4 linked regions of the Homo sapiens genome follow. The protein of the gene in region 3 interacts with the protein of the main gene of each other region in a biochemical or structural test. Each region holds a gene or a part of one and is shown on either strand. Other genes may lie near its edges.

What was found.
Region 1: the proteins of NFIC (region 3) and LHX4 form a complex in vitro, tested with the Homo sapiens proteins (one study listed by BioGRID).
Region 2: the proteins of NFIC (region 3) and KLF8 form a complex in vitro, tested with the Homo sapiens proteins (one study listed by BioGRID).
Region 4: the proteins of NFIC (region 3) and KLF16 form a complex in vitro, tested with the Homo sapiens proteins (one study listed by BioGRID).

The regions. Positions count from the first base shown.
Region 1 is NC_000001.11:180,275,264-180,279,515, reverse strand, and holds the end of LHX4 (LIM/homeobox protein Lhx4), read right to left. Parts: 3' UTR 532-4,252; downstream 1-531. UniProt on the Homo sapiens protein: May play a critical role in the development of respiratory control mechanisms and in the normal growth and maturation of the lung. Binds preferentially to methylated DNA.
Region 2 is NC_000023.11:56,227,814-56,235,355, reverse strand, and holds the start of KLF8 (Krueppel-like factor 8), read right to left. Parts: upstream 3,001-7,542; 5' UTR 2,081-3,000; coding exon of another isoform or gene 2,022-2,080; coding exon 2,015-2,021; intron 1-2,014. UniProt on the Homo sapiens protein: Transcriptional repressor and activator. Binds to CACCC-boxes promoter elements. Also binds the GT-box of cyclin D1 promoter and mediates cell cycle progression at G(1) phase as a downstream target of focal adhesion kinase (FAK).
Region 3 is NC_000019.10:3,432,573-3,439,603, forward strand, and holds part of NFIC (nuclear factor 1 C-type), read left to right. Parts: intron 1-945; coding exon 946-1,020; intron 1,021-1,704; coding exon 1,705-1,828; intron 1,829-2,510; coding exon 2,511-2,635; intron 2,636-7,031.
Region 4 is NC_000019.10:1,853,561-1,860,591, forward strand, and holds part of KLF16 (Krueppel-like factor 16), read right to left. Parts: intron 1,201-7,031; coding exon 899-1,200; 3' UTR 1-898. UniProt on the Homo sapiens protein: Transcription factor that binds GC and GT boxes and displaces Sp1 and Sp3 from these sequences. Modulates dopaminergic transmission in the brain.

The sequences.
Region 1 (4,252 bases), on a different chromosome or scaffold from region 3:
GACCAGCCTGGCCAACGTGGCAAAACCCCGTCTCTACTAAAAATACAAAAAATTAGCCAGGCGTGTTTGCGCATGCCTGTAATCCCACGTACTCTGGAGGCTGAGGCACGAAAATCACTCGAACCCAGGAAGCAGAGGTTGCAGTGAGCTGAGATCACACCACTGCACTCCAGCCTGGGCAACAGCGCAAGACTCTGTCTCAAAAAAAAATTTTAAAAATGCCACTGAACAAACAGGAACTAAAAGTTATATGGTCAACATTTCTACTGCTCATTTCCTAAGTCTGGGGGCAGAGGATCGTGCCCAGGAAATGACTATTAGAAAAACCAGGGAACTTCCTCTAATCAGTCCTTTATTGAGTGGTTCTGGTATTTCATGGCTCTAAGTATAATAGTTCTGGCATTCAGAGTTGTATATTTGGTTTCCTTCTGATGATAAAAGGAAAGGACCTCACATCACTCAGTTTTTATTCTATTTATGTCAAGAGAAAAAACTTCCAGCAAACCAAATGAAAAGCAAGACACATCAGCATCTAAAGAATTTCCATATTTATTTTACATAATTTTACCGTACACATCTCATGCCAACACACAGGAGGCATATACAAACAAACGCACCAGCTTCTGTTTTCCAAAGTCATATGGCAATAAATAAGGATGGGTGGGTCTTTTTTTTTTCTTTTTTTCTTTTTTTTCCCCAGGAAACGAGACTTCATTTCTCTTTAACTGTACAAAATTTACATTGTGAAGGATGAGGGCAACGATCCAGAGCTGAGGGGATCTGGGGCTTTGAGGTCTGATTGCAAGCTCAGAGCAACTTCTGGAATCCCGCAGCCCTGAACCTGCTTGTTTGGCCGAACACAGTCCTCAAGTGGGAAAGTTGGTGTGATTCTTGCCTCTCGGTGGGCAATAGATGAGAGTGGGGGTGTCCTTCCTCTGTTCACCTGTGCTCTGCCTCCCTAAGCAAAGGAATGCTTGGTGCACCTCCCAAACCTGCAGCTGTCTCCTTACCAGAGCTAGCAGCATGAAACTGTGCTTTTAGTGTGGTCCTACCAAGCAGAGTGTGGATGGGATGGCTTTGCTGAGCTCTCTCTTTTTGGCTCCAGTCACTCACTGTTTAGAACAGTTGGAGCAACTACTGCAAAAAGGGCCAATTGACCAATCCAAGAAAGAAGAGAGCCAGTGATGTGCTTTTCATTTAGCTTTCAGCATGCCCAGAGCCCTTCAGCAGCAGGCAATAAAACAAAACTCATTTCCGCTTAATTGAATTTTTCTTCATCTCACGGTTTCCAATTTTTAAAGTGCAGTGTTTAAAAATGAGCCTCCTCAGGCCTTCCAGACCCTGCTGGCTGGGGAGGTATGGTCATTATTTTCATGGTTATAACCAAGTTGTCAGTCGTGGCACGTGGAAGTGTAGGTGCAGAGAGTGGACTGTCATACAACACACAGCCTTTGCTCATCAGAAGCCTTGAGCCCCCTCCTGTAAAGAGGCAGTTGGAAATCACCAGTTTGAGCTTCTGAGATAGGAATGTCTTTTGTTTTACAGATTTCTTACACTTCCTTGCAAAGTGAGTTTAATGATGAAGATCTAATGGCCCAATTATCTTACTAGGTTTCATGTTTTACACTGCCCCCCCCCAAAAAAAGTTTAAGGACACTGCCAAATGGTTTTCTTGTGGCTTAATTTTTTCCTCTTTCCCTGATGTTTCACAGTATTCATTTGCAGGAACAGTGTTATCAATGATAGTTGATCTTTATTTTACGTTATATTCATAACTGTCAGATGAGACAAGAAAGAGAAAGCACAAAGACTGAGAGGAATTTGCCTGAGGTTGCATAGCAAGTCCTTGAAGGGCCAAGAACCTGACTCCCAACACTGATTTACCCATCGGGCCAGCTTCTTAGCCCTTAAATCTGGTATTTCCTCCATGGTTTCATTACGTTCCAACAAACAGAGATTCCTCCATAGCCCCTCAGTTTCCATTTTGCTTATACCAGTTACCACTGGAACTTGGGGTTTTAACTAATTTGCTCCTGGATTCAAGAGCTTCCTACTCTAAAGTCGACCAGCCAGGCACTGCAGATAATGGTTGCCTCTAGAAGGTCTCATTTCATTTTTAAAATTCATCCATGTCATTTTAGCAAGGGGGGAAACAGCTACCATGTAGCACCTTATACCCCATAATAGACTTCCAAGCAACAGAGGAGTGCCTCTAAGAGAAGCTAAAAGTAATGAATGCCCGGCTTTTCTCCATTTCCAAACCCCAGAAGAGTCCTGTCATGCAATGGCTCATTAGTGGCACCAGCCCACCCATAATGCTAACCCAACCTGTAGGGAGATCCATTTAAAATCTTAGACCTACTGTGGCTGTGCTTCTAAACAGGCAGCAGTGTTTGCTGCTTTCTGGGGAGGTGGCTCTGGAAAACAAAGCTCTCCTGGTTTTCAGGCCAGTGCTCTCAAGGGTTTTTCCAGCTAACCAGCCCTACTGATGCCAAAGAACTATTGACCTCGTCAACTGCTCACTGAGTTCCTCAAGAGATTTATTATATTATTAGTATAAATGAGGAAGGCCTCTCCTTCCACTATTGAACTGGGAATTAGTATGATTAACTTACAAAAACTGGTCAACTTACTTACAGTGATCTTAAACAGTGCTACACAGAGGAGGATGCCCCCCCCCCTTTTAAAAAGCCTGCTCTCCCCCACACTATACTCACCAAAAACTTCAAGGGCCTCTGAAATCCCATGAGTTGCTAAGCCAAATAGTCAACCTGCAACAGTGATCTGGGTGGGCAGCTTTTCATCTGGTTCATTGCCCAGCAGAGCCTTTTCTCCTGTGTATTTTAAGCAGCCTGCTAAGAAGGGTGTATTTAAAAAGCCATCCTCCAAAAAGACGACTGCATTTTCCTTTCCTCACATGGCATTTGTGTCTTCCTCCCCACCCCAGTGTTCATGATTGGAGAATTCCCAATAGCACAGAATTGGCTAGGATTAACACAACATCATCCATAAACATGGAACCTCAAGAGAAGTGTCTATGTTTGCAGACTTCTCAAGCAAAAATCATGACCACTGCAGCACACCAAAAAACGAGGGTACGCTATAAAATTGGTCAGAGAAGAGGGCCCGAAGGCTGATCCCGGAATTTACTGTTTTAAAGAACTTACTTAATTGAACTTAGTTTAGTCCTGGAAAAGGGCTTACAAAAGATGTAGCAGTCCAAGAGGAACTGTGTATTCTTCCTTTAGTCTGCCTATGACATGCCTAAGTCTTTGCAGTCCTCAAAAGGTGACCAACCATTCGTAGAAGGAAGGGTCCTTAGGGTCTCTGGCCCCATCACTTCATGTGATAGGCAATGCCTTCTCACCCTTTCCTACTCTGCTGATCTCATTTAAGAGAATGGGAGGCCAGAAGAAGCAAACACAGCTTCCCAGAGGGACAGGAATAAATTCCAGCTGGCTAAATTCCAGTTTGCACATGGAGAGCTTCCTGATGGTAGATGGGTGCACAAGGTGGGTGGGAGCTGCAGCACCATTCAGGACAGCGTTTCCCACAGCAGTGCAGTCTGTCGCAGGAGTGGCAACTCGTAAAGCGGGGGTTGGCCTTGCTCTGGCCTCAGGCTTAGTGATTTGCTACTGCAAACCTGCACAACGGGGAGTCCCTGCACCACCACTGGCCAGAGAGTTCTGGCTTTCTGACCATGGGACTGCAGCCCAAGGCATGGCAGGTGTCCAGCCAGCAATCCAGAGAGATGCAGCCCAAGAACCACTTAGAACCCTTTGGACAATTTTAGGGCTGCTCCCTAAATTACTCTTCCCAACCAAGGTAGGCCAAAAAAAAATTGCTGGTTCCTGGAAATGACCAAAACTGTCCTCCAATTGAGTCAGCTAGGACAGCAGAGAAAGCTTTCAGAGGGGTAGACTTGCAAGCTCATCTAAACCAACTCCTTCAAAACAGACTCCAAATATTTCACCCTACAAGGGATGGGGAACTCTGGAAGACTGGCATCAGCCGATATGGCTGAACAGACTGCAGGTTTGGAATCCAAATGTGTCTACAAATGTTCACTGATTGATTGTCATTTTGTTCTCCCCACATTTTAGTTTTGCTCATTTTACAGCCCACAGCCTGTCTTGTGGAATAAATGATACAAGCAATTGAAGAAGGCACACTGTGCACCAAGGGGACGACTCAGGCAATCTGCAGCGGTGGTCCAGGGCTACTCAGCTCAGCCTCAGTCACCTGCAATGAA
Region 2 (7,542 bases), on a different chromosome or scaffold from region 3:
ACAATGTTATTCCCTTATTCATACTCTACTTAACAATAAGATGGTAATCATACTAGATGATCATCTATGTCAATCATCCTAATTAAGTTTTCCTTCATTCACAAAATCATGGCATTGTAAAGCTAGATCTTAGAAGATCATATACTGCCCCCACCGCACCAGGCACAGACAATCTGGCAAGATCAAAAATGACTAGGCTCTGTTTGCTACTTTGGTTATTGGAATTCACTTAGCCAATGAGAACCCCACCTCAGAAATGCATGTATTAGAACAATGAGAGTGGTGATGGTAGTCTGCTACATGGTTATTTTTTTCCCAATTTCCAATGTGCCCTGAAAAGTCTAAACAAGAGGGATGTATAGCTCCTGAGGGCTCTGAAGGTACAGCCATTAAGTAAGTTGGTCTTGAGGGTGGACTACATAGATGCACCTGTCATTTTTACTTTTGAGGTTATTATTTCTACTCTTCCTATGTTTTCTGCCTGTCTGCCCTCCAGGCTTACCTGAAGACATTGCTCCCCACCCATTCTCTGTGTCCCCAGCAGTCACCAAAGGTCAACAACTCTCAAGGGCTTCCCCATAACTCTGAAGAATGGGATGAGGTCATTTACCTATCACTTGTTTCTGTTGTCCAAAAGTCCTGTTGGTTATATCATTCTGGTTAAGTTGCCCAAAGAATGAGAGAAAAGGCAGGCTAGTAGCCCTTTCTTTCAGAAGTGATGAAGTCTGGTGGAAACAATGTTAAATCAGAAGCAAATAAAACCTGTGTTCTAGCCTCAGCCTTTGGACAAACTAATTCAGTCTTCCTAAGTTTCGTTTTACCACATCTGGAAGGTGTTTTAAGGACAGAAAAACACTAATTTTATCAGCAGTGGTCCAGAAAAATAGTTCCAAACTGAGTAGAAAAGGGAAGTTGAACTAAGATACAAGTGGCAGCCTCTGCCACATACACAAGATATTTCATCCACCCGAGTATCTACTGAGATAGAATTATTAATCTGCATTCTATGGAAGAGAAAAGCAAGGCCCAGGGTGATGCAGCTAATAAGTGGTGATACTAGGGTTTCAAAGCAGATTACCCCAAACCATGGCAATCTCCATCAGTTTCAAATCCAAATTTAAAGATTATTCTTTTTGCTCAATTATTACCACACTGGGTGACAGGTGCTTAATAAATGCGTTTCTTCACGATGAATATAATACCAAAAGAAATAAGACATGGTGCCTTTGGCCACCTGTTTGGATGTGATTTATTTTTTCCCAAATTCTTAGGGTTAAAAAAAAAAGCCCACAAAAAGACAGCTCCGCCAAGTGGCTAAACAAATGGATTCACTTCAGCAATCACAGCAACTCGGCCCAGTCAGTCTTCCACCTACACAGACGAACCAACTGCCTTGGCCACGTCTTAAAGGGCCGGAGCAGAGCCTAGGCTCTGGCTTCCTTCTCCAACCAAGCTCAGCCCCTCCTTAAAGAGCTGGCACGCCCAAAGCAGCTCCTCCCCCGCAGCTGCTTCCAGGCCTCACTCTGTGCCTCCAATAGCCTAACTTTGCACCTTAAACCACTGTCCCCTCCTCCTTCTTTTCAGAAGCTTCTCTAGGTACCCGCTATGGCTTCAGGGGGTTACCTGGGAGCTTTGGCCTTGTGAATCCTGTTCTCTCTGGTTGTGACTTTGGCTGTGTGGGGTTAAGTCAAAGACAATCCTTACCGCTTAAGGAGTATTGGGAGTGCCGAGCCAGGGGAGACTAGACTAGACAAATCCATCCATTCTTGCCCCCTTTCACTTCTTCCACCAAGCTCTCTCCTCTCCTTCTTGGCCTTTCTTTGCCCAGCCCTTTAGCAAAGTCATTTTCCCTTGAGTTTCATTTGATTCCACATAGTGTTCTTAACCTTCCGCTCCCGCCCCCACTGCTGAAACCCCAAGTGGGGTGTGTGGGGGGAGCAGGGGGACTGGGAGGGGGATAGAATCTAGACGAAAGAGGTGGGAGTGGGTGGGTATTAGTCCCAGAGTCACTTACCGACCATGTCACTAGCTGAGGACTCCTGAAGTGTCCAGAACTCATGCCGTCCTCCGGGAGGCTCATACTCCTGAGCTGATCGCAAGAGAGCTGTTCCCCTCACACCCGCCCCATTCTGACATAGCGCAGGGCGACGCGTTCTCGTCTTCTCGTTCTTGGGCCCCCACTCCCCTATTTCTCCGGGCTGGAAAATGAGGAGGGGGTCGAAAGGGGAGGGAGTCGATTCAGACCCAGCTGGGCCACTCTCGGAACAAGGGAAACAAAGCTCTCAAGCATCCAACCCAAAAATCAGGGGCCGGCAGAGTAGACTTCCTAAAAAGAATCCTCCCCCCTGCAGCTTTTCCTTGGACAAAAATAAAGTGGGTTCGCTGGGCCGAAGTGGCCAGAGCTTAAGGTCCTCCGTTCCCCTTTTACCTCTACCAATTCAGTTCCGGCCAAGCCCGCTCTCCACCCATCCTCTGAACTCCACACACCCTTTAAAAGGAGAGGGCCGGGGGTGGGGGCTATGAAAACCAACCCAACCCCCAAAGCGCTACTTGAACATAAAGTTGAGGCGGAGAAGAAATCCTTCAAGACAGGAACCCACGAGGAGATACCACAAGAGGATCCCTTCACCGCCGCCGTTGCCGCCGCACACCCCAGCGCCTTCCTAAAAAGAAAGAAGGGAGGAAAAAAATGCCGACGATTGGTAGAATCATAGAGAAGAACACCAGCCCCAGGGCAGGGGCTTCAGCGAAAAATGGCAGCAACTCGTGCGGGTCCTCTGGGGCGGGGTTTCTTGGAGGCACCTAGCTGCCCCACGGGGTACCTCGCGCCCCACGCGAGTCAGAACCTAAAGTGCTCTCTGGGCAACCTGAGTGGGTAGAGTGATTCCGTCTTTCTCTGGCCCTGCTAGGCCCAAAGGAGAGGTGTGACTATCGTGAGGACTCCACCTAGGGTGGAGTTCCTTAAAAAGGACAGGCGGCCGCTAGAGGAGAGTGCAAAGTGGGAGGAGGTGGAGAAGGGTGGGGCTGAGAAGGAGGAGGGAGGAAGGAGGGGGTGGGGCGGGGCCCTGGGCCGACAGAGCTGGCCTCGCCTCCGGCGGCCGCCTCCCTCAGCCTCCAGCAGCGGCAGGTATAATTCCAATCAATTTCACTTCCTTATCTGTCCCAAAATTAAGGCTTGCAAGCACACTGCTTGATTACCTATTTACTCCGGTTATGCTAATTCTCCAGGGGAGGGTGGTGAAACGGGTACTGGGATTGGGGCTGGGGGCTGTCTAAGAGGGAAAGGAGAAAACAAAAAAGCTGACAACTGGAAGCGATATTTATCCTCCTACCTCTCCATGGTAACACGAACAAGGACAGCGAGGTCACAGTGTCTTCTCAGGGAGGAAGCTAAAAGGAACGGAGATTGGAGCTTGGTGCATTTTCTAGCAAGAGATAAGCCAAGGAGGTGAGGGCGAAGGAGTAGGTGGGGAAGAAGAAGGAGTTGAAGATGATCTGTGAATACAGCGTGGCCCAGCAGGGAGACTTAAGAAAGGCTTTCTCAGTCTCCCAGATACCAGACCTCTAAGAATAGAGTTCTCAACCCCCTGAGACCGCCTCTCAGCCAGGCATTGGCGAAGATCCCCGTAAAGCTGAATCCACAGGATAGGAGCCATGTTTCCAGGATTTCTTTACGCTTGCCTGAAAGTCTCTCTCTAGCTCATTTTAATGGGAGGCCAGGAAGTCACAAGCAACCACAGCCCATTTTCAGTGCCTCTTCCCTACCACAATTCTTTTAAAGAGGAGGAAAAAGAAGAGAGACAAGAAACAAAGCAGAGGGAGGAAGAGCAAAGAGACAGGAGAAATAATAATATCTGCCATGTATTCAGCACCTAATATGGGCAAGTCCCTGAGCCAGGTGCTTTTACATTCAACATTTCCCCATTTAGTCCCAATAACAACCCTGGGAACTAGGTACTGTTATATTCTCTGTGCCCTTTATTTAAAAAAATAAGGAAACGGAAGGCCTCAGCCCAGTACTTTCGAACACATAGGTCTACTTACTTAGTTGATATTTCTGCCTGAATGTCTTCTGTGCATCTCATCTACCTTCCTTTCCCCAAAACACTCTGTTCTTCCTCCTGTAGTTCACCAACTACCTGAATGGCACCACCATACATCCAAGGCAGCACCCTGGAACTCATCCTTTAACCTGCTGTGATCTGGCCTTTGTCTGCCTCTCAAGCAGCAGAGATTTTGCTGTTCTCCTGGGCTTTACCTGGATTACAAATCCCTGGGAATTCCAAGCTGTTTCCAATCTCTATGCCTTGGGTTGCTTTACTTTCTCTGACTGAAATAGACTAAGCTCTCTGTCCACCTTTTTTTTTCTTGCATGTCCTTCCAATGAATCTGTCCACTTTCTTGAAAGGACTAACTCAAGGTCATCTCCCCTCCTTACTTAATTTCTTCAGGCAAAACTGACCATTGCTTCCTCTGTGCCCTTCTCTACCTCGGGGCACATATTTGTTGGTATAATTGCCTCCCCCTACTAAACTATAAAGTCCTTGAGCTGAAGCACCAGGCGATCTCATTTCTGTAACTTGGATGCCAAGTTATATTATTATTAACAATAATAATAGTTATTGAGCATTAACTATGTACTAAACTCTGTTGTAAGCCTCTTATGTATATTAACTCATTGAATCCTTCTGACAATCCTATGGGTAGACATTGCTATCCCCATTTTACAGATGTGGAAACTTAGTGACAGGTTAAATAAATACACATGCATATGTATTTGTTTCATAAAAGAATGTCCCTGTAGTAGGGGTTTCATAAATAACTCTCTATCTCACTATATCTCTTCACCACGACCTGCACCCCTGCCAAGCTTACAAGGTAAGATATATTGAGATGGAATCATACAGAGAAGTGTACAACTCTCTATGCCTTCATTTAAAAAATTTACTTTATTCCTTGGAGGCTTTGTTTCTCAATGTATAAAATTTGGGGAGTATTATCCAATATAGGATTCTTACCACTACAGCACTGTTTTGAGCAATGCTGAAAAGTTTTCTCTTAGATTCAAGTGTGTGAAAGACATTAAGCAGTTTATATCAATAATAAATGCATTTTTGTGATGTGCAGATGAAAATGAGTAGATTGCTGAAGTAACATTTTGAAAAGAGTAGCCACTACTAGCCCTGAATACAGTGGGTGTGCCTTAAGGTCATCGAGTTACTTTTTCAGTCTGAAATAGCTTTTCAAGAAGGTCGATCCATACACAGATAGCTTAACAGTTTATATTTTATTAAAAGTCTTTATTGTTGACAAATTTATTTTAAGCTCTAGCTTTTTGTTTGTTTTAGAAATACTGCCTCAACTTTATTTGTGGGGAAAACTTAGACCTTAGATGGCAAATTCAGTTTTTGGAAAACTTGAAGTTATTGAAACTTGGAAAAACAAACCCAAGATCCTTTCCCATCTGTTCTTTCATCTATTCAGTCAATAAAATGTATTGAGCACCTGTGCTTTATCAAGAACAATGCTAGGTGTTGGGGGGCGGTGGAATGAGAACATCCATTCTAAGAGGCTCCAGTGGATGAACCCTCAATTTCACTGTACGCACACAGCCTATTAGTCCACATTTCCCCTTCAAGTCCTTTAGAGATGGCCTCTGTCTCACTCAAATTAGGACCCAAAGATGGTTCACAGGGAACTATGAAACCCATGACCACAGTTAATGTCAAAGGCAGGAGTTTGCCTTTATATTCTTTTACTCTTGACACATAGAAATAATCAGCATGTGGTTGGTGTTGTCTATGTCACACGAAAGGGTGTGAGGGAGCAGGTATGGGGAACTAGAAGTTTTGATAAATTTCCCTGTCCGTCTAGGAAACACCTCAGGCTCTCCTTTCTTTAGCTGGCTAGAATAAACATGAACCAAATAGCAACCTGCGATATTTTCAACTCCTTCCATCCCACCTTATGCGTGAGGGAGACTGCTTGAAGAAGCAGCCTGTGCTTTCCTCTATATATCCAAGTAATCAGATGAGGAGTGTTAAATTAAGTGTGGAACCTAATGAAAAGCAGCTGAGAAATATGCAGACACGATTCTGGGCCCACATATGCTGTTCTTCCCTTCTTCTCTTTCTCCTCTTCATCATCCCGCTTCTCCTCCTCCTGAAAGCCAGCTGACAAACTACCAGGGTGGAGCCCAGTCTGAGGGCTGGAGGGAAGGGAGGAGGAAAAGCCTCAGTAAGAGGACTCCACCCTCTCTGCTCCCAGTAGAACAACAACAATAAAAAAAAGAAGGCTTGAGAAGCTGGGCCTGACAGGAAGGTGGGGCAGAATAGGGCAAAGTGAGGAAGGGTGGGTAGATGGGAGGGGAGTTAGGACCTCAGCTGGGTAAAGCTGGGCTGGGGAATGAAAGGGAAGTCAAGCAATATACAAACAGAAAAATCTGCATTCATTAAATCACTGTTGTTTGTGGAACAACAAAAATGTAGCTAAAACCAGGGCATAGTTCAGACCTAGTGGGAACAAAATTGTCCTCCTCACCCACTTTTCTTCTTATTCCACAGTTCCCCAGAGAGCATATTCCTTCTGCGAGCTCAGCTAGAAGGAGACCTTTTGCCCCTCCGCTAATGTTGAACCAGTGTTAAGTTCCTCACATGTCCCAGAGGACAGCACTAAGGTTACTGCCAGCAAAGGATAAAGATATTTTGGAGAAGGAAATCTAGTTAGCTGAGAGAAGAAAGCCTGGAAGGAGATTGCGGGGATAAAACAATGATTTAGATTGCAAACTGTGCAACCCTGGGCAAGTGCCTTCACATCTCTAAACATTTCCTCACCTATTTCTTTTAAAGATATTACTTCACAGAATTGTCAAAAAGATTAAATAAGATGCAGAGGTGGCTTTACAGTAAAATTAATGAAGCTTAAGCTTTACGCCCCTTTCCAAGACTCCAGAAGGGATCAAACATTGTGTTTTTCTTAAAGATGGTCCCCAAAGTGGTATAAGCTTCCAGCCCCACAAAACCTAGATTGGCCGCCAATGAGATTATAGCCTACAAAGCACAGTGTCTGGCACAAAGAAAGCTCTCAATAAAGGTTAACTAATATTCATAGCAATGGCAACTGTGAAAACTACCAGCTTTAGGTTGAGTCTCTTTCTGGTCATAGATATTGAGAACATGCTCCTGTGTTCCCCATAACCCTTGCCACTGTATGTATAAATAAACCAGTTTATAAAAATCAGCAACTAAACTGCTTGCTTGAGACATTCAGAGGCATGATTAAATTTGGTTTAGGAATGGCCAATGGGCCAGAAACATGTGGCCAGGGTTTGAAATTCTGGCACCGCACCATCCCAGACAAGCTCTAGCAGGCCTGCTGAGTCCTATAAATTTAGTTGTGCCTCAGGCTGCTATCTTTATGAGCAAGGAGCTTGACTAGGTGTGTGTGTGTGTGTGTGTGTGTGTGTGTGTGTGTGTGTGTGTTGGGGCTAGGGGGTTGAGTATGTATGGGTTTTTAACTCCATTTTAGACCCTAGATACCACC
Region 3 (7,031 bases):
GAAACTTGGAGGCTGAGAGAGGGAAAGTGACCTGCCCCAGATCACACACCGAGGCAGGTGATGGAGCCGATGTGAGCCCAGGCCTCCGCTTTCCGCTCTTTTTTTTTTTTTTTTTTGAGATGGAGTCTTGCTCTGTTGCCCAGGCTGGATGGAGTGCAGTGGCGCAATCTCGGCTCACTGCAAGCTCCACCTCTCGGGTTCACACCATTCTCCTGCCTCAGCCTCCCAGGTAGCTGGGACTACAGGCGCCTGCCACCACGCCCGGCTAATTTTTGTATTTTTAGGAGACAGGGTTTCACTGTGTTAGCCAGGATGGTCTCCATCTCCTGACCTGTGATCCTCCCGCCTCGGCCTCCCAAAGTGCTGGGATTACAGACGTGAGCCACCGCACCCGGCTCCACTCGTTTTTTAAGAGAGGGTGTCGCCCTGTTTCCCAGGCTGGAGTGCAGTGGCACAACAATGGTTCATTGCGGCCTCCACCTCCCAGGCTCAAGTGATCCTCCAGCCTCAGCCTCCTGAGTAGCTGGGACTACAGGCACGGACCACAACACCTGGCTAATTTTAACACTTTTTGTAGAGATGGGGTCTCGCTGTGTTCCCCAGGCTGGTCTTGAAGTCCTGAGCTCAAGCGTTCCTCCTGCCTCGGCCTCCCACAGTGCTGGGATTACAGGCATGAGCCACTGCGCCCGGCCTGCTGTTCACTTGAATGCAGCATTCCACAGCATGGGGGAACCCGGATGAAGGCTGTGTGAAGGCCCACACTGGACAAGGACCCCCCACGGGGCCTTCCCCATCAGACTGGAGCTGTCATTCCCCCACAGCACAGGATGGACAGGGGGAACGTCCAGGCTCGGGCCAGCCCCCAGGAGTCCAGGCAGCCCTGGAGTGTGGGGAAGGGAAACAGGCCCAGCTCAGCCTACTGACCCCGCTGTCTTCCTGTTCCAGACACGACCGACTTCCAGGAGAGCTTTGTCACCTCCGGCGTGTTCAGCGTCACTGAGCTCATCCAAGTGTCCCGGAGTGAGTGTTCCCGTCAGCCCTGAGCTGGGTCTTGGAGAGGGGAGGGGGCCGCAGGGAGGAAGGAGCCCACCCCCCTCACCCTACTCCTTGTCCTTTCCAGACAACCCCCTGTGTCACTAAGCCAAGGTTCCTAGAAAGGGAGGTGGCCAGGCCCTTCCCAGAGCCCAAGGTCAGGGCTCCCTCCCACCTCTCCAGGAAACAGAATCTAAATGCTGGATGGCAACTAAGGAAACTTCTGCCCCAGCATCCCTCCTCCTCCCTGGGGCCTCCACTGTCCTGTCCCAGGAGACCCCAAAGGACCCCGCCCCTCCTGTCCCCTTGCTTTCTCTGCTGACCTGCTGGGGACCCAGCACATTCCGTCACACACTGTCTGAATCCCACCCCAGCGAGTCCTGGGCGCTGTCCTTCTTTAGCCCTGACTGACACCTTCCCTGTCCAGATCAGCAGAGCCTGGCCTCCAGCTTTGGCTACACCTCTGCCTCACAGTGTGCTCTTGGCCTCTCCCCATGGCCTTGGTCCTCTGATCCATAGAATAAAACTGGTTTCAGCCACCCTAGGAACCGGGCCAATATGGGAAGGGGGTCCCCCTTTGGACTGCACCCAGTGGCTTTCCCTACCTCTCTAAAGCAAACCGCAGCACTGGGCACTGCTTCCTGCCTCACTCTCCTCTGTCACCCTCTGCAGCACCCGTGGTGACTGGAACAGGACCCAACTTCTCCCTGGGGGAGCTGCAGGGGCACCTGGCATACGACCTGAACCCAGCCAGCACTGGCCTCAGAAGAACGCTGCCCAGCACCTCCTCCAGTGGGTAAGTACCCAGGTCCCCACCTCTGGGCATTTCATGACCCCATTCATCAACCCATCCCCTCTGGCCCGAGCTGACTCATTCCTCTCCCTGGAATACCTCTTTTCACGATTCACCTGGCCTGAGAAACTCCTACTCATCTCATCCTTCAAAACCCAGCCAGCCCCACGTGCCTCTTCCCCTAGCCCTGACAGCCCACCGTGGGCTCCCCCAGCCTCAAGTCCTGCCGGCTCAGCCAGCCCTTAGGACCCTCCCCACCCAGAAGAATGCAGACACAGGTTGTTGCTGAGATATGCTTTGTGACCTCGAGCAGGTCACACTGTGTGTGCCCCAGTTTCCCCATCCATAAAATGGGATCATACCCCTAACAGGCAGTTCTGAGGACTACAGGTGGCCAGGAGATTAGCCAGGCTGCCTGGGTTTTGGTCTCCACCATGCTAGCTTGGTGTCCGACCTGTGTTGAGACCCTCCCTGCCTCTGGCCCGGGTGTCCCATCCAAGCAATGGACAGGTTGGAACAGGCGTTCGTAGGGAACGGGCTGAACGCCCGCGGCTCCCGCGATGTCTCGCGATACTACCTCCCTCGCCCCCGCTCACTTAAGGACCGGAAGTAGCAAAGCCCGCCGTCGCGCCCCCCGCCCCGCGTCTCCCTGGTAACCAGCCTCTCCCCTTCCCTCGCCCATAAGGAGCAAGCGGCACAAATCGGGCTCGATGGAGGAAGACGTGGACACGAGCCCTGGCGGCGATTACTACACTTCGCCCAGCTCGCCCACGAGTAGCAGCCGCAACTGGACGGAGGACATGGAAGGAGGTAGGGCTGGTGGCGGGGGCGGAGCCGGCCTTCCGGTCTGAGTCACCGTGGCGGGAACTACGTCTTCCGGCAGCCACTGCGCGGGCGCCGCGGGGCAGGAAGCCGGCCTGGAGCCGCGGGGCCTCCTGGGAATTGTAGTCGTCCCGAGCTGCGCTTGGCTGGAAGTACGGTCCGGGTTCGCGTTCTCGGATCTCTTTGGTTCCGCTGCGGCGAAGGAGGGCAGAGACTGTCCCCTGCCTGACTCTCCTGCCCTCCGGCCGTGAATGCCACATCTCTGTGGGGTCCCCGAGCTGCAGGATGGACTCAGTAGTGACTCTGATCAACAGGGCGCCTCTTCCTGGGATCTGTCATAGAATCCCTCGTCTGTAGGGACCCTGTTTGTCCTCTTCCCCTCTAGAAGGTCCTGAGATGCCGGATCCCTTCTCATTGGGGTCCTTCTTGAGGTTACTTTTTTTTTTAACCAGGTTCCCATCTCCATGGGATCTTCTGGTTCTGCAGGAGACTCGTCTCCTTTCTGTAGGGTCTCCATTCCCATGGCGTCGTTTTCTAGGAAGATTTTATCCTCTTGCTTTTCTGTCTTCAGAAGGGTCCTCTCTGGGGTGTCTTTCTTTCTTTCTTTCTTTCTTTCTTTTTTTTGAGATGGAGTTTCGCTCTTGTTGCCCAGGCTGGAGTGCAATGGCGCGATCTCCGCTCACTGCAGCCTCCACCTCCCTGGTTCAAGCAATTGTCCTACCTCAGCCTCCCAAGTAACTGGGATTACAGGCATGCACCACCATGCCCGGCTAATTTTTTCTATTTTTAGTACAGACGGGGTTTCACCATGTTGGTCAGGCTGGTCTCAAACTCCCGACCTCAGGTGATTCGCCCGCCTCGGCCTCCCAAAGTTCTGGGATTACAGGCGTGAGCCACCACGCCCGGCCTCTGTTTTTGTTTGTTTGTTTGTTTGTTTGTTTTTGAAACGGAGTCTCGGTCTGCTGCCCAGGCTGGAGTGCCGGGGTGCAATCTTGGCTCACTGCAGCCTCGACCTCCCAGGTTCAAGTGATCCTCCTGCCTCAGCCTCCCAAGTATCGGACTGCAGGTGCATACTGCCATGCGCCGTTAATTTTTTTTTTTTTTTTTTTTTTTTTTTTGGTAGAGATGGGGTCTCACTATGTTGCCTAAGCTGGTCTTGAACTCCTGAGTTCAAGTGTGATCTTTCCTCCTGCCTCGTCCTCCCAAAGTGCTGGGATTCCAGGTGTGAGCCACCATGCCGGGCCCCTCTTATTTTTTTTTAATTTTTGTTTTTTGAGATGGAGTCTTGCTCTGTCACCCAGGCTGGAGTGCAGTGGCGAGATCTTGGCTCACTGCAACCCTTCCTCCTGAGTTCAAGCAATTCTCCTGCCTCAGCCTCCCAAGTAGCTGGGATTACAGGCACCCACCACCACACCCGGCTAATCTTTATATTTTTAGTAGAGACAGTGTTTCACCATGTTGGCCAGTCTGGTCTCAAACTCCTGACCTCAGGTGATCCACCCACCTCGGCCTCCCAAAGTGCTGGGATGACAGGTGTGAGCCACTGCTCCCGGCCACCTGTAGGATTTTTAGAAGCAGTATAACATTAGGATTAAGAGGTCAGATTCAGGCATTGGAGAGACCTGGGTTCAGATCCCAGCCCTGCCCGTGTCTAGCTCTGTGTGCTGTGTAACCTGGGGCACATCACTTAACTTCTCTAAGCCTCAGTTTCTTCATCTCCACAATGGGGGTGATGTGAATAATGTTCTTTGGGAGCTACAGGAGGAGGAAGGGTAGGATGTGCGTGAAGCAACCGTCTGGCCCATGCGACATACCCGGGAAACGGGAGGTCACTGTCATCCACGTCTTTATAACATTCCTGTCTCTGACCAGGCTCGGTGGCTCACGCCTGTAATCCCAGCACTTTGGGAGGCCGAGGCAGGCGGATCACGAGGTCAGGAGATCGAGACCATCCCGGCTAACACAGTGAAACCCCGTCTCTACTAAAAATACAAAAAAAATAGCCGGGCGTGGCGGCGGGTGCCTGTAGTCCCAGCTACTCAGGAGGCTGAGGCAGGAGAATGGCATGAACCCGGGAGGCGGAGCTTGCAGTGAGCTGAGATGGCGCCACTGCACTCCAGCCTGGGTGACAGAGCGAGACTCCGTCTCAAAAAAAAAAAAAAATTCCTGTCTCTTTCCGGCACTCGGACGCATCTAGTTGTGACATTTCAGGTGCCAAGGCCCCTCCCTTCCACAGTGTGGGCTCCCAGAGCAGGAACATTCCTAAAGGGTCTCCATCCCTCAGGGGACCTGTCTCAGTATTTATGAGGTTCTTTTTTTGTTTGTTTGTTGTTTTTGTTTTGAGATGGAGTCTTGCTTGTTTTGAGAGATCACGCCAGTGCACGCCAGCCTGGGCAACAGAACGAGACTATGTCTCAAAAAAAAAAAAAGAAAAAAAAAGTCACTTCTGTTTCGTTTTTTTTGTTTTTTGTTTTTTGTTTTTTTTTTGAGACGGAGTTTCGCTCTTATCACCCAGGCTGGAGTGCAGTGGTGCAATCTCGGCTCCACCTCCTGGGTTCAAGTGATTCTCCTGCCTCAGCCTCCCGAGTAGCTGGGACTACAGGCGGGCACCACCACAACCAGCTAATTTTTGTATTTTTAGTAGAGACGGTTTTTACTATGTTGGCCAGGCTGGTCTTGAACTCCTGACCTCAAGTGATCCGCCAACCTCAAGTGATCCGCCCATCTCAGCCTCCCAAAGTGCTGGCATTACAGGTGTGAGCCACCGCACCCAGCCGTGACTTCTCATTAACTCTGTAATTGATGAGGCTGTCAGAATGTAAACTGCACGCTAATTAAAGTGAAAGACCACCTTTGCGATGAGCCAAAGCAACCCTGAGAGGAAAAATTGTAGCTTTAAGTCTATTTATTAGGAGAGGAGAAAGGTGGAAAATAAAGAATCTAGCTTTCAACAGAGAAAACTCAAAAAGAAAACATTTTAAGCTCTGGAGCTCAGTCTGACTTTTCTGCCCGGCTGCTCACTGGCAACCCCTTCCACTGGGGAAGGAGGTGGTAGCAATGGGGGGAGGACAAAGAGGAAGCCCCCACCAGCTTCTGCTCTGTGATTGGGAATCGCAGAGCTAGCAGGGAATGTCAGAGGAGGTCTGTGCTCCTGCAGCTTCCACTTGATTACCTCAGGGGATGGCAAACTCACTCCCTCCTGAGGGTTTCTTTTTTTTTTTTTTTTTTTTCTTTTTGAGACAGAGTCTCGCTCTGTCGCCCAGGCTGGAGTGCAGTGGCGCCATCTCAGCTCACTGCAAGCTCCGCTTCCCGGGTTCACGCCATTCTCCTGCCTCAGCCTCCCGAGTAGCTGGGACTACAGGCACCCACTACCACGCCCGGCTAATTTTTTCTATTTTCAGTAGAGACGGGGTTTCACCGTGTTAGCCAGGATGGTCTCGATCTCCTGACCTCGTGATCCGCCCATCTCGGCCTCCCAAAGTGCTGGGATTACAGGCGTGAGCCACCGCACCCGGCCTCCTCCTGAGGGTTTCATCCTCAGTGTAAAGCCCTCCTGTGTGCTGGCCCTACCTGAGGCCCTGGGGACACAGAGATGATCCAACCCACTCTTGTCCCTACCTTCCAGGGGCTAACAGCCTAGTGAGGGAGATGGGTTTTTATCCAGGTGACTACAGCCCAGAGGAGGAGGCACAGAAGACAGTCAGGGGGAACAAGAGGACCCTGATAGAACTTGGAAGAAAAGGGAGGACCTCCCCGAGGAGGAGAATCAGGCTGACAGAGCAGTGAGGAGCTCGGGCAACTGGCTTCTCTGCTTCTCCAGCTGTGTGACATTTGGCAGGTTCCTTAACCTCTCTGCCCCTCAATTTCCTCTGCTATACGATCAGGTTGCTGGCCGGGTGCAGTGGCTTACAACTGTAATCCTAGCAATATGGCAAGACCCCATCTCTACTTAAAAAAAAAAAAAAAATAGCATCACATAGTGGTGTACACCTGTAGTCCCAGCTCCTTGGGAGGCTGAGGTGAGAGGATTGCTTAAGACGGGAGGTCAAAGCTGCCCTGAGCTATGATCATACCACTGCACTCCATCCGGGGCAACAGAGAAAGACCCTGTCTCAAAAAAAAAAAAAAAAAAAAAAAAAAAAAAAAAAAAAAAAAAGGCTCACCTGTAATCCCAGCACTTTGGGAGGCCGAGGCAGGCGGATCACCTGAGGTCAGGAGTTCGAGACCAGCCTGGCCAACAGGGTGAAACCCCATCATTACTAAAAACACAAAATTAGCCGGGTGTGGTGGTGGGCACCTGTAATCCCAGCTACTCGGGAGGCTGAGGCAGGAGAATCACTTGAACCTGGGAGGCGGAGGGTGCAGTGAGCCGAGATTGTGCCAT
Region 4 (7,031 bases), 1.6 Mb from region 3:
TTGTCACGTGATACCGCAACGGCCAAAGTCAGCAAGGCAGGGACTGGAGGCCCAAGCCCGGTGCCAGCCTCCCCTGCAGCCTCTCTCACCCACCCACCCAGAGAGGGCGAGCTAGGGCCCCCACACCCGAGGACAGAGGAAAATAAATAAGCCAGGATTCCCTCCCGACCCCACTGAGTCAAATGTTCTTTGGAAGAACCCAGAGGTCCCCTCCCTCCCCATCCCAGGTCTCAGAAGCAACACCTGGAGCCCCTCCGGGCATCCTAACGCTGCCCCACTCCTGGCTCTACCCCCGAGGTCTGGGGGGCCAGGCAGCCCCTACCGTGGGCAGAACTTGTGGACACCTGAGATTGAGTACCCGAATGGGGGGTGGCTGGGCTGCACCCCCATTTCCCTGAACTACTCCCATGGCTTTCGGTGGGGTGGGGGTGGGGTGGGGAGAGGCAGGGGCCGTGTCAACCCCCGACTCCTCTATGGCTGTCTGAACACTTCATCCCAATCTGCAGGGATGGGGCAGGGGGTGCTTTCCCCGGGCCGGCTCCCAGAAGTCCACTCCACCCCCCCAAACCCCACCCCGGGAGGGGGGCAGCAGGGGGTGGTGGAGAGGAGAGGGGAGGACCTCCTAGCTGCCCTGGGGGGGCCCCGTTGCACAGATGGGAAGAAAGTTAGTATCATGGCTATTTACAGACACAAGCCCCCGTCACCCATCCTGAGAGCCACCTCTGAGGTCAGGCAGACCCAGGTCCAGTCTCAGGCCCCCTCCTCACTCTCTGGAGGGGGGCAGGGGTGTCTTCAGGGTTTGCCCACGGCTGGAAGGGGCCCAGGCTCCCCGTGGGTCCTCACTACACCCCTGGATGGCAGAAGCATCCTGGCGGTCAGGGTGGGCTGCACGAGGGCCCTACAGGCCTGCGGGGGCTGGGCTGGGCGCGGGGCTGGGCGCAGGGCTCCCGGCCAGGCTGCAGGGCAGCGAGTCGCTGGGGGAGGTACTGCGGGCACCAGGGCGCCGGAGCAGGTCCGGGTGGAAGCCGGGGTGGCGGCGGGCGTGCTTGGCCAGGTGGTCACTGCGGGTGAAGCGCTTGGAGCACAGAGGGCAGGAGAAGCGCTTCTCGCCCGTGTGCGTCCGGTGGTGGCGGGCCAGCTCGTCGGAGCGGGCGAACTTCTTGTCGCAGCCCTGCCAGTCACAAGCAAAAGGGCGTTCCCCTGGACGGAGAGACAGAGACAGACAGCGGGTCAGCGGGGGCGGGGGGAGATGACAGACACGTTCCAGCAGATCCCAAAGGGTGGCGGGCATTTGTCCCGTGCCGTTTTAGAGGCTGAGCTCTGGTGTGAGTTCAAAACATGGAGAAGCACAAAGAATACAACCCTTACCCGCCCCCCGGTGGCCCAACACGAGACCCTAATAAATAATCCTCTTATTTCCTACCAGCTCTTAGAAAGGACTCTCCGGCGAGCCCAGAATCTGTTAACCGTAAGTAACCGCCGCAGACCCCCAAGGCTGAAGCTCCCCAGGCCCTCGCAGCCTCTGGCCCCAGGCGGGACCCTGGCAGGGATTAGCAAAGGCCTCCCAGTGTCTGTCCCAGGCACAGGCACGCTCAGAAGGCATGCTCGGCCTTCAGGCTGTCCCTGCCCCCCACCCAGGGGCATGCAGGGGCCTCCATCTGTGCATGATCCCCTCCTTTTCCAAATGACCACCTGGGATGCAAAGGCTGGGTTAAGGGGGTACAATCATGGCAACCTCCCTAACCCTCCTGGCCCCTCCACGAGCAAGGGGGCATGGGAGGAACCCGCAGGCACAGTCAGTCTGGGCCCCGATCTCGGGGTGTGGTTAGATGGAAGACAGGCAGGAAAGCTCACAGGGAGGGGAGGGGGCGGGGTCTCCCGGGAAGGGGCGGGGCCCGGCGGGCTGGACTCGCCCCACCCCCACGGGACAGATGGCGCTGGGCAGGGGCGGGCCACCACCCGGCCACTTCCTCCACAGTCCCCTCCCACCGCCAAGGCCGGGCCTCGCCCATCCTGCCCCTAACCAGCCGTCACCATCTGGGCCTGCCTGTGCGCCTCCAGGCGGTGTGGGTCTTTGCTCTAGAACTGTGCCACCCGACCCCTTCCTTTAGCCGGGGTCTCACGCCCACAGCATGTGGCATCGTGATGTCAGCGTCTCCCCAGCAGATAGGGGTCTCCAACGACTGGGGAGGGGCAGGTCAGTCCACCTCCACCCAGGGACCGAAGCAGGACAAAGGGCCCTGCATCCCCGAAGCTCCCACCCTTTCGGGCCCTGCACCAGGTACCCTGGACCCTGGCATTCCGGGACGTTATTCCCGTGACACCCCAGGGTGGGTTGTGTGGATGGAGACCGGATGTGCATGCCCCTCGTGGCACTGGTTGGAGCCCTGAGTAGCAAAAGAGACGTCAGAACCAACTCCCCTGAGTGGCCCCAAAGCCTATTCTCAAGGAAGCCACAGCAGGGCCAGGAGGGTAGTCACCCGGTGGGTTACAAACTGGGCAGCCCACGCCCAGCACTGGAGGTTGCTCTGGCCCTGGGAGCACTCCCACCGGTCCATGAAGAACTGCAGCCAGCCAGGGGCCTAGAAGGACCCACAGCAGGGACCATGGTGAGGGGTACAGAGACGGCGGGAGGGGCACGGCCATGCTCAGGGTGACCGAGTGACATCTCTGCTCTAAGATCAGGGGCTGCCCTGGGGAGCCCAGCTGAGGAGGGGCACGGGAGGGTGGAGGGGTCTGCCCACTGAGGGGCACCAGCGATCACCCGTGACCCAAGAAGAGCTGGAAGAAAAAACCTTCCCTTCTCATCTCATCCTTCCTCCCTGCCACACCCCGACACCCTCAGCAAAACAAGACTGCAGACAGAGACCAGCAGCCCCCCTCCCCAAGAGGTTGTGAATCCAGGCAGCTGGAGAGGGGGAGAGACCAGCTGTCACCAAGACCAACAGTAGCCTCAAATCCCTGGGGCTGCCTGCTCCACACCCCAAGTCTCCCCCAAGCAACCCAGGATGCAGCTGGGGTCGCGGGTCCGCCCCAGCTGGGGGCCGTCTACAACCCAAGCAAGAGGCGCAGAGCAGCCCTGGAAGGGACCCCACTCCCATCTCAACCACTGGGCCCTGACAGCTCCCAAGGGCCTCAGTCTGGGGACGGGGTCTGGCTGTGGGAGCGCGGCTGGAGCAGACCACGGGATTGGGGCTCGCGCCCCTCCAGGGAACATGCCGCCGTGTCGCCATCTTGCAAGGCACAGGCGGGGAGGCGGCAGGAGGGAAGGGGGAACATCCCACGGCTGGGTGCCGGACAGTCAGTTGGTTCACTTCCCCTTTCAGGGCGGCGGGGCTGGTCTCCACTCCCTCTCCCCCAGTTCCACTTTGCAAGGAGGAGCAGGTTGCCGGGGTGGGGGGGGCGACCGGGGCAGGGGCGCGCAGCCGCTGGGAACACAGCTGCCGCACGTAGCTCGGCGGCGGCGGCGGGGACATCCGCAGCCCCAGCCGGCCCCGCTCACGTGGTCCCACTCCCGCCGGGGCCAGGGGGCCCGGGCCAGGGTCGCCTCTCCGGCCTGGGTGCCTGCCAGCCCCGCCCCGCGCTTGGAGACTGAGGCGCGCACATGCGCACGTGGGTGGCGGGGCAGGGGGTGCACGGGCTACCCACCCACGCTGCGCTGGGCGAAGCGCCTCTGCGAAATGCCAGGCCCTGCCTCGCACACAATCCACTCGCAGGGAGGAGGGTGGGGTGAACTTGTGGGGGCCCAGAGCGCGCTGCTCCTAGCCAGCCGGGCCCCCAGGTGCACAGCCACCCAGCTGCTCCGCGCTACCTGGCCGAGACGCAGCGCCCTGAGGATGCGGTGGGTGGGGACAACGCGGGAGGGCAGTGTGGGCGGGGCCGCGGTGGACTTGACCCTCTGACTCAGGCTGGGCCCGGGTGAGCTCAGGACAGCCTCGGAAACAGGCAGGCTCAGAAAAATGGAGTCCAGGAAGTCCTGGAAACCTGGCCCGGCCCCGTCTGAGCCGGCACAGGAGGGGCCTGGAGACAGGACTGCGGGACTGTGCCAAGGGCCCTGGTTCCGACAGGGAAGCCTCACCTCCTGAGCTTGTCTGGGGGGCCTTGGGGTGGGGAGGGGGGCTGTGGCCGGCTGCCTGCCGGGGCACTCACGTCCACCTAACAGGTGGGGTCGGGTCTGTAGGGGAGGGCACAGGTGGGGAAGACCAGCCCCAGCCGCAAAGCAAGCATCCCAGGAGAGCCAGGAAAGGCTGGGGCTGGGGAGGCCTCTTACCCACCCAGGGAAGGGAGGAGCTCCTGAAGGTGATCCTTGAGCAGGTTCTATAGAACCTATAGGCAGCTGCTTCTGGGAGCCGCTGCAGAAAAGGGGGAACACTGGTGGTGAGGCCCTGCCAGCCTGGGGGTGGGGTCTCGAATACTACTGGGCCATAGCAACCCCCACACCCACTCTGCCCCTAGCTCCCCTGACTTCCCAAAGCCAAAGCTTCCTTCCTCCCCCATCCCCACTCCTCCAGTAGACTTCCCCTTTCCAAACCCCCTGCTGTTCCCGCCAAACACGCAGGCAGGCATACCCACCCTTGTGTCAATCCCGTACCTCCCCACGTGCCACCTGCCAGCCAAATCCCATCACCTTCGGGATCCGTCCAGGCCCCACCCTGCCCCTCCCAGCTCACTCCTGGACTAGTGCAGTAGTCCAGCAGCTCCCGCCTGGGCACCCAGACTGCGCTTGGCTTTCCTGAGTTCCGCCCTGGCCTAGGGTCAAAACTGATGGCTGATCCTGCCCGGAGCTTCTCTGAGCAGCAGTGCCCCTCACAGTGGCCTGGTGCCCCCCAAGCACCCTTGGTCAGCTTCTCTGTCTTTGTACCAGGCTTCCAAAAACGCATGCATCTTGTGGGTGTAATATCTGCACCCCTGCACTCCAGTGGGAGCAGAAGGCAGGCACTTCATTGACGGCTGGGTCCCCGGCAATGCCCAGCACAGGCCTGGTATACAGCAGGTGCTTAATGCATATCTGTGGAAAAGGAGAATGCAGGCCTAGGGGATCAAGCTCTGGTTCCAACAAGAGCAAGGGCAGATAATGTTTGCTCAGCATCTTGAATACTCCTGTCCTCCCCACCCCGCCGCCAAACTATCACTACTCCCTTCTACATAAAAGGAGGCCCACCTGAGGCCCAACCCAGGCCAGGACCTCCTGCACCAGACTCTGGGTACCTGGGGGTCGGCAGGGGACAACCCCCTCAAGGACCCTGGTGCCTGTGTAACCTCTGTTCCAGAAATGGTCTAAGCCAGGGTGGTGCCCCCCGCCCCCACAGCTCACCCTGCTGGTATCATGTGCCTCCTCCCCACCGATCTGGGCTGCTTTTATCAGAGAGCCTGGGTGGGGGTGGTTATCGCCCCCCACAACCCTGGGGGAGCCCTCCCCATCCCACTAGCTGGGGCACCTGCAGGCAGTTCCAGCTGCTCTCTGCACTCTGCAGGCTGGAGAGGCGGTGGGTGGGGGAGGGCAGTCCCTGGCCCCCTACCCCCCACCCCCTATGGCCTGGCACTGCCCCACTCCGACCCTCCCCAGATAAGCTGCCAGTTCTCCCAAGCTCTGCCCACCAGCACTGCCATCCCAACCCTACAGGAGCGCATAGTTCTGCCTGGGGGTGGAGGAGAGAATGAAGTGGGGCATGGCTGCTTCCCCCTCTGGGCCTCAGTTTCCCCACCCACCTGTCCTCCTGGGGCCCTCTTCAGCAAGGGATCAGAAACCTGGCAGGCACTCAGACACTCCTCTGCACACCTCGTCCTGAGGAGTCTCCCTCCAACCCAGTGCGTAGACCAGCACGCCTCGATCCCTCCCACATCTCGTCCTGCCCTCCTCAACCCCTCTCTGATCCTAATCCCTTCTCCATAAATGGATTTGCCTCTGCAAAGCCCAGCCTGCCTCACTGCCGCCCCCAGCGTCCCCACCCTCGGGATTAAGTGCAGGGATTCACCTTGCCGAGGTGCCCCCTCCCCACCTCAAGTCCCTACCTCCACAGCAGACCCCAGAGCCAGCACGCCCTTCCTCTCCCATTCCCTGCCCCACCCAGCCCAGTGGGCCTCAGGCTGCCTCCTCCAGGAAGCGCTTTCCGTCATCACTAGCATCCCTGTTGCCACCCCCCACCCCGCCCCCCGCCACCACGGACACAGTTCCCTAAGTCCTGGGGCGCGGGGACTGGGATGCTGGGTGCTGGCCTGCGGCAGGGGACTTCAGAGTGGGATACAACTGGGGGTGACCCTGCAGCCCCCTGGGGGGCACCTGACAAGGTCTGGGGACATTTGTGATTGTCACGACTGGGGAGGGGGTGCTCCTGCCATGGAGTGCGTAGAGGCTGGGGACACTGCATAACCCCCTGCAGTGCCCAGGACAGCCCCTCCCCAGAAAACGATCAGGCCCCAAATGTCTCGGTAAGTGCGGAGGAGAGAAGCCCTGGGTGAGAAGAACCCTTCCAGGTCTGAGCCCCTCTCCTGGGGAGGGTGTCGGCAAACCCTCTGGAGGTGCAGGCTGACGGTGTGCCGGGCACTGGCATGCCGGGGGCGGGGGGGGGGCCCTCCGGGGATGCAGGGGGTTTGGAGAGCAGGGAGCCGACAGCCAGCCTCTCCTCCCGCCCCCGCCCCAACTCGCTGGCTCGCTCACTCTCCGTAACCATAGCAACGGCGTCAACATCACCCACAGCTTCCAAAGTCCTTCCCCGCCCCACGCAGGGGAGAGAGAGCCGAGAGCTGGCCGGGCTAGGATAGGGGCTGTGGGCCAGACCCAGGGGACGGGAGGTGCAGTCCTGCCGCCTGCTGCCCCCATGAAGAACATCCCACTGCTCCCCTGGCCTCCCTGCTCCCAGGGCCAAATGTGGCCGAAATCACAGGTGGGGCTCCTCCAGTGTGCCTCAGTTGGTTTATCTGTAAAAATGGGGCCAGGCCACGACTGGTGTTCCCTTTACAGAGAAGCACTCCAGGCAGGGGTGGGTGGGGGTGGAACTCGTTCTCAATGGCCCCCGGGACAGCCCTGCAGC